Homo sapiens: one gene and its partners. The protein of the gene in region 2 interacts with the protein of the main gene of each other region in a pairwise test. Each region holds a gene or a part of one and is shown on either strand. Other genes may lie near its edges.

The links.
Region 1: the proteins of SRSF4 (region 2) and TICAM1 interact in a two-hybrid assay, tested with the Homo sapiens proteins (one large-scale study listed by BioGRID and IntAct).
Region 3: the proteins of SRSF4 (region 2) and PRRC2B interact in a two-hybrid assay, tested with the Homo sapiens proteins (one large-scale study listed by BioGRID).

What each region holds. Positions count from the first base shown.
Region 1 is NC_000019.10:4,828,850-4,832,973, forward strand, and holds the start of TICAM1 (TIR domain-containing adapter molecule 1), read right to left. Parts: upstream 2,864-4,124; 5' UTR 2,765-2,863; intron 1-2,764.
Region 2 is NC_000001.11:29,150,803-29,154,451, forward strand, and holds part of SRSF4 (serine/arginine-rich splicing factor 4), read right to left. Parts: intron 1-3,649. UniProt on the Homo sapiens protein: Plays a role in alternative splice site selection during pre-mRNA splicing. Represses the splicing of MAPT/Tau exon 10.
Region 3 is NC_000009.12:131,400,505-131,404,153, reverse strand, and holds part of PRRC2B (protein PRRC2B), read right to left. Parts: intron 1-3,649.

The DNA of each region.
Region 1 (4,124 bases), on a different chromosome or scaffold from region 2:
ATGCCACCATGCCCAGGTAATTTTTGTATTTTTAGTAGGGACGGGGTTTCACCATGTTGGCCAGGATGGTCTCAATCTCTTGATCTCGTGATCCGCCTGCCTTGGCCTCCAAAATTCTGGGATTACAGGCGTTAGCCACCACGCCCTGCTAGTTTTTGTAATTTTAGTAGAGACAGGGTTTCAGGCTGTTGGCCAGGCTGGTCTCGAACTCCTGACCTCAATCGATCCGCCTGCCTTGGCCTCCCAGAGTGCTGGGATTACAGGCATGAGCCACTGCGCCCGGCCTGTATAGGACTCTTAAAGCAGTGCCTGGCACACGCATGCCCCACAAACATTAGCATGCAAGACTGAAACCTCCTTGCAAGAAGGACTCAGGGGAGTTTTGCAGAAAACACGACAAAGCCAGCCAGACTTAGAATCATCAAGGCAGGACCATCTCCACCTGAATGCCTGGCAAATCTCTAAAATCACGTGGTCTTTCTTCTCATTCTCTCTGCCCCCCCGGGCCTGAACTCAACTCTATTTCAGTGACTGCCCCAGCTTCCCCCGCCCGCCTCCCCTGCCCACTGCCACCTCCACCTTCTCGAGACCCAGCAAGTTTCATTTCTCACTGTCCATGGCTGGGACAAAGTCCACTCCTCACTCTGAAGAGCAGGCGCCTGGCGGGACAAAAACACCCATGGGGTAGGAGGGTTCTGGCTCTGCCACCTGCCGGCTTGTGTGGTCTGTTTCTCAGCCTCAGCTTCCTCATTTATAACACCCACATGAACTGGTACTTAGGATGAATGGGAGTCTGTTTTGAAGCTTTCATGCGAAAATATGGTTAAAAAGTTTAGATCAGTGCCCAGCAAGGAGCAAGAGCTTGATATAATAATATTAGTGTGACAATAAATATTGGCAGACTTTTTCTCTTCCTCTTCCTTTTTAAAAAAATTTTTGATTTTTAATTTCATTTCTTTTTTTTTTTTTTTTTTTTTTTGACACAGAGTCTTGCTGTGTCGCCCAGGCTGGAGTGCAGTGGCGTGGTCTGGGCTCACTGCAACCTCCGCCTCTTGGGTTCAAGTGATTCTCCTGCCTCATCCTCCTGAGTGGCTGGGATTACAGGCATGCACCACCACGCCCCGCTAATTTTTGTATTTTTAGTAGAGACAGGGTTTCGCCATGTTGGTCAGGCTGGTCTCAAACTCCTGACCTCAGGTGATCTGCCTGGGATTACAGGCGTGAGCCACCTGCCCAGCCCCATTTCATTTTTTTTAGAGACAGGGTCTCACTCTGTCACCCAGGCTGGAGTGCAGTAGTGGGATCACGGCTCACTGCAGCCTTGAACTCCCGGGTTCAAGTGATCCTCCCACCTCAGCCTCCCGAGTAGCTGGGACTACAGGTGTGCGGCACCACACCTGGCTAATTTTTGTATTTTTGGTAGAGACAGAGTCTCACCCATGTTACCCAGGATCCTGGGCTCAAGCAATCCACCTGCCTCAGCCTCCCAAAGTGTTGGGATTACAGGCATAAACCACTGCACCCGGCTAACTTTCTTTTTGAATTTTTTTGTAGAGGTGGAGTCTCGCTATGCTGCCCAGGCTTGTCTTGAACTCCTGGGCTCAAGTGATCCTCCCACCTTGTCCTTTTTAAATGTTTTAACCACCTCTCCCACTCTCCTTCCCACACTCTCATGCAGCCTTTCATGCATCGAATATGCATTTATTGAGCACCTACTAGGTCCAGGAACTGTTCAAAGTGCCACTGCATATCAAGGCAGGCACATCTACCCTCACAGAGCTCCCAGTCTGGTTCAGGGAGACCAACAGTAAGCGAGAAAATAACCCAAGATCATTTCAGAGAATGAAAAGTAACGTGAAAGCCATGAGCCGGGGGCTGTGTGGCTCTGAGAGACTGGCTGGGAAGGGGCTACAGGGGACCACGGTGGTCAAGGGAGGCCTTTGGGGACAGGAGGTAACATTGAGCTGAGACCTAAAGGAGCTGAGGGAGGAGGCTGGGTGGAGATCAGGGAGGAAAGCTTCTGGAAGGTGAAGCCACCTGCCCAAAGGCCCTGGGGCAGGACTGCGCCTGGTGAGCTGGAGGAACAGTAAGGAAGCCCATGTGGCTGGATAACCGTTAGGAGGGGGAGAAAGGAAGAAGGTGTGTGGTGGTACAGGGTGTGAGGTTGGGATCCTGGGTGTCAGGGAAGAGTTTGGGGTGTCAGGGAGGAATTTGGGGTGTCTGGGAGGAATCTGGGGTATTCGGGAGGGATCCTGGGTGTTGGGGAAGAATCCAGGGTGTCAGAGAGGGGTCCTGGGTGTCACGGAGGAATTTGGGGTATCAGGGAGGGACCTTGGGTGTCAGGGAGAAATTCAGGGCGTTGAGAGAAATATGGGGTGTGAGGTAGGAAGCTTGGGTGTCAGGAATTTGGGGTGAGAAGGAATATGGGGTTTCAGGTAGGAATCCTGGGTGTTGGGGAGGAATCTGGGGTGTCCGGGAGGAATCTGGGGTTTGGGGGAGGGGTCAGGCTGTCGGGGAGGAAGCCAGGGTGCTGGGGAGGATCCCGACAGTGGGGGAGGATCTGGGCCACCAGCGCGGGGAGCTGGAGGTTGAGGGGAACGTCAACCTCCCAACGCGCGGCGCCAGGCCCCCTCCTCCGCACCGGGGCCCTAAGAGGGAGGCCAGGTGGCCTGGAGCCCTGGCGAGCGGCACGGGCTCAGGGCCACCCCCCACACCCCCGACACCTTCTCCACCTCAGGCCCGTCCTCGCCCCTTCCCCACCTACCAGGGATCCGGGGCTGCCGGCTGCGCCACTGGGTCCTGGGGTCCTGGGGGCTGGGGCTTCTGCGGAGTTGCCCGCGGACCGTAGCGCGCTGAGGGCGCTGGCTCCACCCCGCGGCCCGCGCCCTGGGAAGGAAGCGCGCCGCCCCTTCCGCGTCCCGGGTGGGTGTGGGACGTGAGGTCACGGTTTCGGAGTCCTGCCCCGCAGCACCGGGAAAGTCCCCGGGTCGCCCCGCACCCATGCGCTCTCTTCCCAACCCTTGCGGTCACGTTCAGCAAGTGTGAGCACCTACTGTCTGCAGGGGGCCAGAAGAACTCGCATCTGCTCTCGGGGAGCCCACAGTCATCTGGGCGGGGGTCCCAGATGAGAAAGTAATCACAATTGTAAAGTGGGATCATCTCCGTTAGTGATAGGTGCTTTCCAGGAAATAAATGTAGCAGCTGTTTTTATTTTATTTCTCTTATTTTATTTGTTTGTTTGTTTATTTATTTTTTTATTTATTTTCCGAGACGGAGTTTCGCTCTTGTTGCCCAGGCTGGAGTGCAATGGCGCAATCTCAGCTCACTGCAACCTCCGCCTCCCGGGTCCAAGCAATTCTACTGCCTCAGCTTCCTGAGTAACTGGGATTACAGGCATGTGCCACCACACCTGGCTAATTTTGTATTTTTAGTAGAGATGGAGTTTCTCCACCTTGGTCAGCGTGGTCTCGAACTCCCAACTTCAGGTGATCCACCTGCCTTGGCCTCCCAAAGTGCTGGGATTACAGGTGTGAGCCACCGTGTCCGGCCTCCCTTTTTTTTTTTTTTTTTTTTAGTTGGAGTCTTACTCTGTGGCCTAGGCTGGAGTGCGGTAGTGCGACCTCGGCTCACTGCAACCTCCACCTCATGGGTTCAAGCGATTCTCCTGCCTCAGCCTCCTGAGTAGCTGGGATTACAGGCACGTGCCACCACACCTGGCTAATTTTTGTATTTTTAGTTGAGATGGGGTTTCACCATGTTGGCCAGGCTGGTCTCGAACTCTTGACCTCAGGTGATCTGCCCGCCTCGGCCTCCCAAAGTGCTGGGATTACAGGCGTGAGCCGCTGCGCCCGGCCTAATTTTATGATTATAATAATTATTATTATTTGAAACGGGGTCTCCCTATATTACCCAGGCTGCTTTCAAACTTCCAGGCTCAAGCAATCCTCCCGCCTCGGCCTCTCAAAGTGCTAGGATTACAGGTGTGAGCCACCGCACCTGGCCTATATTATTTTTATCACCACATTAAATAAGATCTAATAATCACAGTGATTTTGCCGTGGTGACAAGTGTCAGATGTGTTTCTGGTTGCAATGCAATCTGAAAGTATCTGTGGTTTTTATTAG
Region 2 (3,649 bases):
CCCCCGTCTTTCCCCTATCCCCTTACACACCCACGATCATGCCTCCTGATCTTCGGTCTTTCTACCTCTGCTGCTGCCTCTCTGGGCAAGCCACCATTATCTCTCCCCTTGTTCAACAACCAGCCTTTCTGTGTATACTTTTCCCCTTTACGATCTATTCAACTCACTGTGACGAGAGCTGTTTTAAAGAGACCGACAATCCAAGCTTTACAAAATTTTTTTAATGCATCCAGACTGTAGATTCTTATTTTCTACCAACCAGGACTCCTTGGGAAAATGACTGACTCCAGGCGTAAAGCAGGAAGTAGTACACAAAGATGGGCCTAGACCATCTCATTATGACAGAAAGAGGGAAACTTTCAAAGCTGCCCAGGCACCATCACCTATGAAGTATTCTTGCTAAAAATGTTTAACCTGCATCTCAATCACACCTCTCCAGACCTAACTTCCAGTATATAGGAAGTTCAGGGGATAAGATACAAGTTCAATGATACTAAGAAGAAACAGATAAATACAGAATGTGAGTATTAAAAAACTAAGAAAAATAAGCCAGGAGTGGTGGCTCACGCCTGTAATCCTAGCTACTTGGGAGGCTGAGGCAGTAGGATAGCTTGAACCTGGGACGCAGAGGCTGCAATGAGCTGAGATGGTGCCACTGCACTCCAGCCTGGGCGACAGAGCAAGAGTCCGTCTCAAACAAACAAAAAAACCCAAACCTAAGCAAAATAAATGTCATGAAGGAACTGCTCCACACTAAAAGCCTGACTACATTAGGTTTTACCTAAAAACCCCTTGTACTACATGACTGGATTAGATCCCGGTTAAGAAAAAACCCAGCTATAAAGACATCCATGGAGTAACTGGGGAAACATGAATATGGCCTGGGCATTTAGTAATTAGATGGAATTACTATTAATGTTCTTAGGTGAAAAAACAGAACTGTGGTTATCCTCATTCTTGGAGACACATGCTGAAGTATTTAGGGGCAAAGTATCATAATTTCTACAACTTACTTTCAAATGCTACAACAAAATAAATGTACAGTGTGCTTGTATAAATACATACATACAAAGAGAGAAAAGGCAAAATGCTATCTGTTAAAGCCAGAGGAGGGTATACAGGTGTTCATTAACTATTCTTTCAACTTTTGTTTGAAGAAACCAATTGCAAAAATACCTATTTGAGACAACTAGGGCAGGGTGCAGTGGCTCACGTCTGTAATCTCAGCACTTTGGGAGGCTGAGGTGGGAGGACCGCTTGAACCCAGGAGTTCAAGACCAGCCTGGGTAACATAGCAAGACTCCATTTCTACAACAAACAAACAACTGAAAAATTGGAATACAACCTAGATATTACATCATAGTATGGAATTATTGCTAATTTTGCTAGCTATGTTATCATGGTTTCTTTTAAAATACTACAGATACATACTGAAGCAGTTGCAGATGGAATGATAGATGTCTAGACTTGCCTTACAACAATGCAGCAGGAGCGGGTGATGTGAAACAAGACTGGCAAAATAAAAACTACAGAAGCTGGAGGAGTGGGAGGTGCAATTCAGAGTTCTCCAATGCTTCATATATAAATTTCAAATTTTCCATAATAAAAAGTCAAAAGACCTAAATAACAAAACCTGAAAAGTCTCCAGTGACTTCTCACTACTCTTCCATTCTTGCTCTGGCCTAATGGTCAGTATATCTGGTCCTTCTCTGCCTTATCTCAAGCCACTCTCCTCCCGTTACCTCTCTATATTAGCTTCTCTACTCTGGAAAACTTTCTCCTGCCCCCAGGCCTTCAGAAACACCCTTTTCTGTTAGATAGATAGGCATTTTCTCGACGGGCACGGTGGCTCAAGACTGTAATCCAAGCACTTTGGAAGGCCGAGGTGGGTGGGTCACCTGAGGTCAGGAGTTCGAGACCAGTCTGCCCAACATGGTGAAACTCTGTCTCTACTAAAATTACAAAAATTAGCCAGGCATGGTGGTGTGCACCTGTGATCCCAGCTACTCAGGAGGCTGAGGCAGGAGAATCGCTTGAACCCGGGAGGTGGAAGTTGCAGTAAGCCGAGATTGTGCCACTACACTCCAGCCTGGGTGACAGAGTGAAAGAAACTCCGTCTCAAAAAAAAAAAAAGAAAGAAAGAAAGGCATTTTCTTCTGCTCACCATCTCTCTGCCTTATTCATTAGGGCTCAGTTCTACAGCATGTCCTTAGGGAAGCTGTTGCCAGCTCTCTAGACTAGTTGTGCTGTGTGCATTTTCTTGTCACAATAGCACGGTTTATTCAATACTCATCTTCTACGCTAGACTGAGTTTCAGGGGGGCAAGGACCATATTTGTCTTTTTTTTGAGACAGAGTCTCTTTCTGTCGCCCAGGCTGGAGTATAGTGGAGTGATCTCTGCTCACTGCAACCCCTGCCTCCTGGGTTCCGGTTTAAGCGATTCTCCTGCCTCAGCCTCCCTAGTAGCTGGGACCACAGGCGTGTGCCATCATGCCTGGCTAATTTTTTTTTACTTTTGTATTTTTAGTAGAGATGGGGTTTCATCACGTTGGCCAGGCTGGTCTTGAACTCCTGACCTCAGGTGATCCACTCGCCTCAGCCTCCCAAAGTGCTGGGATTACAGGTGTAAGCCACCGCGTCTGGCCATTTGTCTTCTTTACAAAGCCTTTCCAATGCTTAGCCCAGTGCCTGGCCTGTTCAGGTGCTAAGTAAGACAAAATTGCCATGTGTGCCATCAACCAAGGTAGTAGGATCTAGGGGTCCCAAGAAGAAATGTGAAAGGTGGCCTCTGATTTCCATTTTTTTTTTTTTTTTTGAGACGGTGTTTTGCTCTTGTTGCCCAGGCTAGAGTGCAACGGTGCGCTTGGCTCACCACAACCTCCGCCTCCCAGGTTCAAGCAATTCTCCTGCCTCAGCCTCCCGAGTAGCTGGGATTACAGGCATGCACCACCAACGCCTAGCTAATTTTTTTGTATTTTTTCAGTAGAGACGGGGTTTCTCCATATTGAGGCTGGTCTCGAACTCCTGACCTCAGGTGATCTGCCCGCCTTGGCCTCCCAAAGTGCTGGGATTACAGGCGTGAGCCACTGTGCCCGGCCTCTGATTTCCCTTTTTGAGATGGAGTCTCCCTGTCGCCCAGGCTGGAGTGGAATAGTGCGATCTCGGCTCACTGCAACCTCTGCCTCCTGGGTTCAAGCGATTCCCATGCCTCAGCCTCCTGGGTAGCTGGGACTACAGGTACGTGCGCCACCACACCATTTTTTTTTTTGAGATGGAGTTTCGCTCTTGTTGCCCAGGCTGGAGTGCAATGGCACAATCTCGGCTCACTGCAACCTCTGCCCCTACTGGGTTCAAGCAATTTTCAAGCAATTTTTCTGCCTCCGCCTCCCGAGTCACTGGGATTATAGGCACCCACCACGCCCAACTAAATTTTGTTATTTTTAGTAGAGACAAGATTTCGCCATGTTGGCCAGGCTGGTCTCGACTCCTGACATCAGGTGATCCACCCACCTCGGCCTCCCAAAGTGCTGGGATTACAGACATGCGCCACAGCGCCCAGCATTTTTGTATTTTTAGTACAGATGGGGTTTCACCATATTGGTCAGGCTGGTCTTGAACTCCTGACCTTGTGATGCGCCCACCTTGGCCT
Region 3 (3,649 bases), on a different chromosome or scaffold from region 2:
TATTTTTTAGAAACCTAACATTATTTTTAAAACACTTAGTGTGGCAGGTCTGTTCACATGAATATGGAAAAATGGCTGGGTGTGGTGGCTTACACCTGTAATCCTAGCACTTTCAGAGGCCAAGATGGGAAGACAGCTTGAGGCCAGGAGTTCAAGACAAGCTTGGTCAACATAGCGAGACCCACCCCCACATCCCTAAGGAAGAAAAAAAAAGTATTACTGAAAATAAAAATAAGAGAAGTTACGCTTAAAAATACGTATGGAAAAATACTGTGATATTTTGAAAATGCCAAGTTGCAATACAATATAGTATATCCCATTTTTGTTTTTTAAAAAACCTCCCTACATGAGGCCATATTTATACGTGCACTGAGCCTAGAAGGATAAACAAAGCAAATTTATCAATAATGGTTACTGCCTGGGACATTGGGGAAAAGCTTTCATTTCTCTTCAAACACTTGGCTTTTAATTTTGTTTTTTTTTTTTTTTTTAAAGTATGGGCCAGGCGCAGTGGCTCACGCCTGTAATTCTAGCATTTTGGGAGGCTGAGGTGGACAGATGGCCTGAGCTCAGGAGTTTGCGACCAGCCTGGGCAACAAGGCGAAACCCCATCTCTACTAAAATACAAAAAAAAATTAGCCAGGCGTGGCGGGATGCACCTGTACTCCCAGCTACTCAAGAGGCTGAGGCAGGGGAATTGCTTGAACCTGGGAGGTGGAGGTTGCAGTGAGCCGAGATCATGCCACTGCACTCCGGCCTGGGCAACAGAGCAAGACTCCACCTCAAAAAAAAATAAATAAATAAATAAAATAACCTGTATACTTCTGCAATTAACATTTTACCAAAAACAAACAAACAAACAAAAAACCAGAAAATACCACATTATGATTCAGGACACTATCCTCTTCCCAAGGACTTCTGAACACTTGGCCCATTCAGTCCACCGACAGGTCGGTTGGGCAGGCAGGCAGGAGTGATGATGCCCCTCCCAGACAGGCCTGTGCTTTCTGCCCTGGCCTGGAACACAGCTGTTCTTTAAGCTCTGAACCATATGTAAACAACACCTGCCGAAAAAAGTTCTGCAAGACACAAAGGACCCATGGAAAGAGTCCTGGAGATGACCTCCTTTTTCCAGTAGGTCCTGCAGCGATCCATCCCATGGTTCTATACAAAGAGATGATCCTGAAGCGTGTCGGGAAGTTGACGCCGGCTTCCCGGAGGCACAGTCATTCTCTGCCCTCCTCCCTGCTGGCCACTGGCCATACAAGAATGCTTGCATAATGTTCACCATTCAAAGGGCCTCGGCACTCTCTGGAAAGCAGGCTGACCCACAAGTTCTCTTCTGGGACCCATACATTTCTGATTTCCACATAGGAACACATTTTTAATGTTCCAGGGCTCAGCACACTATTTTCAATAGGTGCTTATTTCGAGTCAGCTACATTTTCCAGAATGCCTTCCCTGACTGCCCCACACCCAGACTGAGGTGAGCTTGGTTTCTGCGTGGGCTCCTATAAGACCCCCTTCTCAGACACCTGGCACACAGTGATGAATGGGAAACAACAGAATTCTGCTTCCGGATGCATTTACTCACTCCACTGGGGGAAAGGACCATTCAATACATGAAAACAAAACTATCTACAGGCTGCTGCCCGTCGCTGAATGAATAAATAAAATGTGGTAGATACATGCAAATAAGAGAATATTATTCTGCCTTAAGAATGAAGTTAGTTCTGACACATGCTGCAACATGGATGAACCTTGGAAATACTATGCTAAAAATAAGCCAGACACAAAATGACAAATACTGGATGATCTCACTTACATGAGGTACTTAAGAGTATTCGGTTTCACAGAAAGAAAGTAAAATGGTTGGCAGGGCAAGGTGGCTCAACATTGCCACCATGGGATTACACATGGCTGTAATTCCAGCACTCTGGGAAGCCGAGGCAGGCAAATCGCTTGAGCTCAGGAGTTCGAGACCAGCCTGGCCAACATGGCGAAACTCCGTTTCTCCTAAAAATACAAAAATTAGCCAGACCTGTAATCCCAGCTATTCAGGAGGCTGAGGCAGGAGAATCGCTTGAACCCGGGAGGTAGAGGTGCAGTGAGCCGAGATCGTGCCATTGCACTCCAGCCTGGGAGACATAACGAGACTCTGTCTCAAAAATAATAACAATAATACAAAAATTAGACCAAGCACAGTGGCTCACGCCTGTAATCCCAGCACTTTGGGAAGTCGAGGTGGGCAGATCACCTGAAGTCAGGGGTTCGAGACCAGCCTGGCCAACATGGTGAAACCCCGTCTCCACTAAAAATACAAAAATTAGCTGGGCATGGTGGCAGGCGCTTGTAATCCCAGCTACTCGGGAGGCTGAGGCAGGAGAATCTCTTAAACCCAGGAAGCAGAGGCTGCAGTGAGCCGAGATCGCGCCATTGCACTCCAGCCTGGGCAACATCAAAACTCTGTCTCAATAAAATAAAATAAAATATACAAAAACTAGGCCAGGCACGGTGGCTCATGCCGGTAATCCCAGCACTTTGGGAGGCTGAGGTAAGCAAACCACTTAAGGCCAGGAGTTCGACACCAGACTAGCCAACATGGTGAAACCCCGTCTCTACAAAAAAATACAAAAATTAGCTGGGTGTGGTGGCGTGTGCCTGTAATCCCAGCTACACAAGAGGCTGAGGTTGCAGTGAGCCAAGATCGTGCCACTGCACTCCAGCCTGGGCGACAGTGAGACCCTATCTCAAAAAAAAAAAAAAAAGGAGAAAGAATGGTAAGAATGGTGGCCGCCGCCACTGGATGGGGGAGGGGAGTTGGCATCTAATGGGAACAGAGTTTCAGTTTGGGAAGATGAGAACGTTCTGGAGATGGATGGTGGTGATGGTTGCACAACACTGTGAAAGTGCTTCACGCCACTCAACTGTACACTTAAAAATGGTAAATTTTATGTTATGTATACTTCACCACAATTTTTAAAATTCAAATAAAGAAAAAAACACCTATTTACAAGTTGTGAAAACTGCTATAAAGAGAAACTGTAGGGGGCTCCGAAGAAATCACAGGAGGCTGAGGCAGGAGAATCGCTTGAACCCGAGAGGTAGAGGTTGCAGTGAGCCAAGATCGCGCCATTGCTCTCCAGCCTAGGCAACAAGAGCAAAACTCCGTCTCAAAAAAAAAAAAAAAGAAAGAAAGAAACCACAAGAGGATGAGGCCAAAGTTAGGTGGGGGGCTCTCCAGGGCCTCCTCCCCACCAGACCAGGATCTCCCCAGGAGTCAATGGGGCATCCATGTCCCTAGAAACAAAAACTGTTTAAGACAAAAGGCTTCTCCAGGTTCAAACCAGTAAATGGAGTAAGACCTCAAGCCCCACTCATCAAAGGGCTTAACCAGGACTGAGACCCCCCAGAACCTAGTGGCTCATGAAAGAGGCTGCCTTGCTGGGTGCCGTGGCTCATGCCTGTAATCCCAGCACTTTGATAGGCGGAGGCGGAGGGATCACTTGAGTCCAGGAGTCTGAAACAGCCTGGGTGTCCAGGCACGGTGGCTCACACCTGTCATCCCAGCACTTTGGGAGGCCAAGGCAGGTGGATCACCTGAGGTCAGGATTTCGAGACCAGCCTGGCCAACATGGCAAAACCCCGT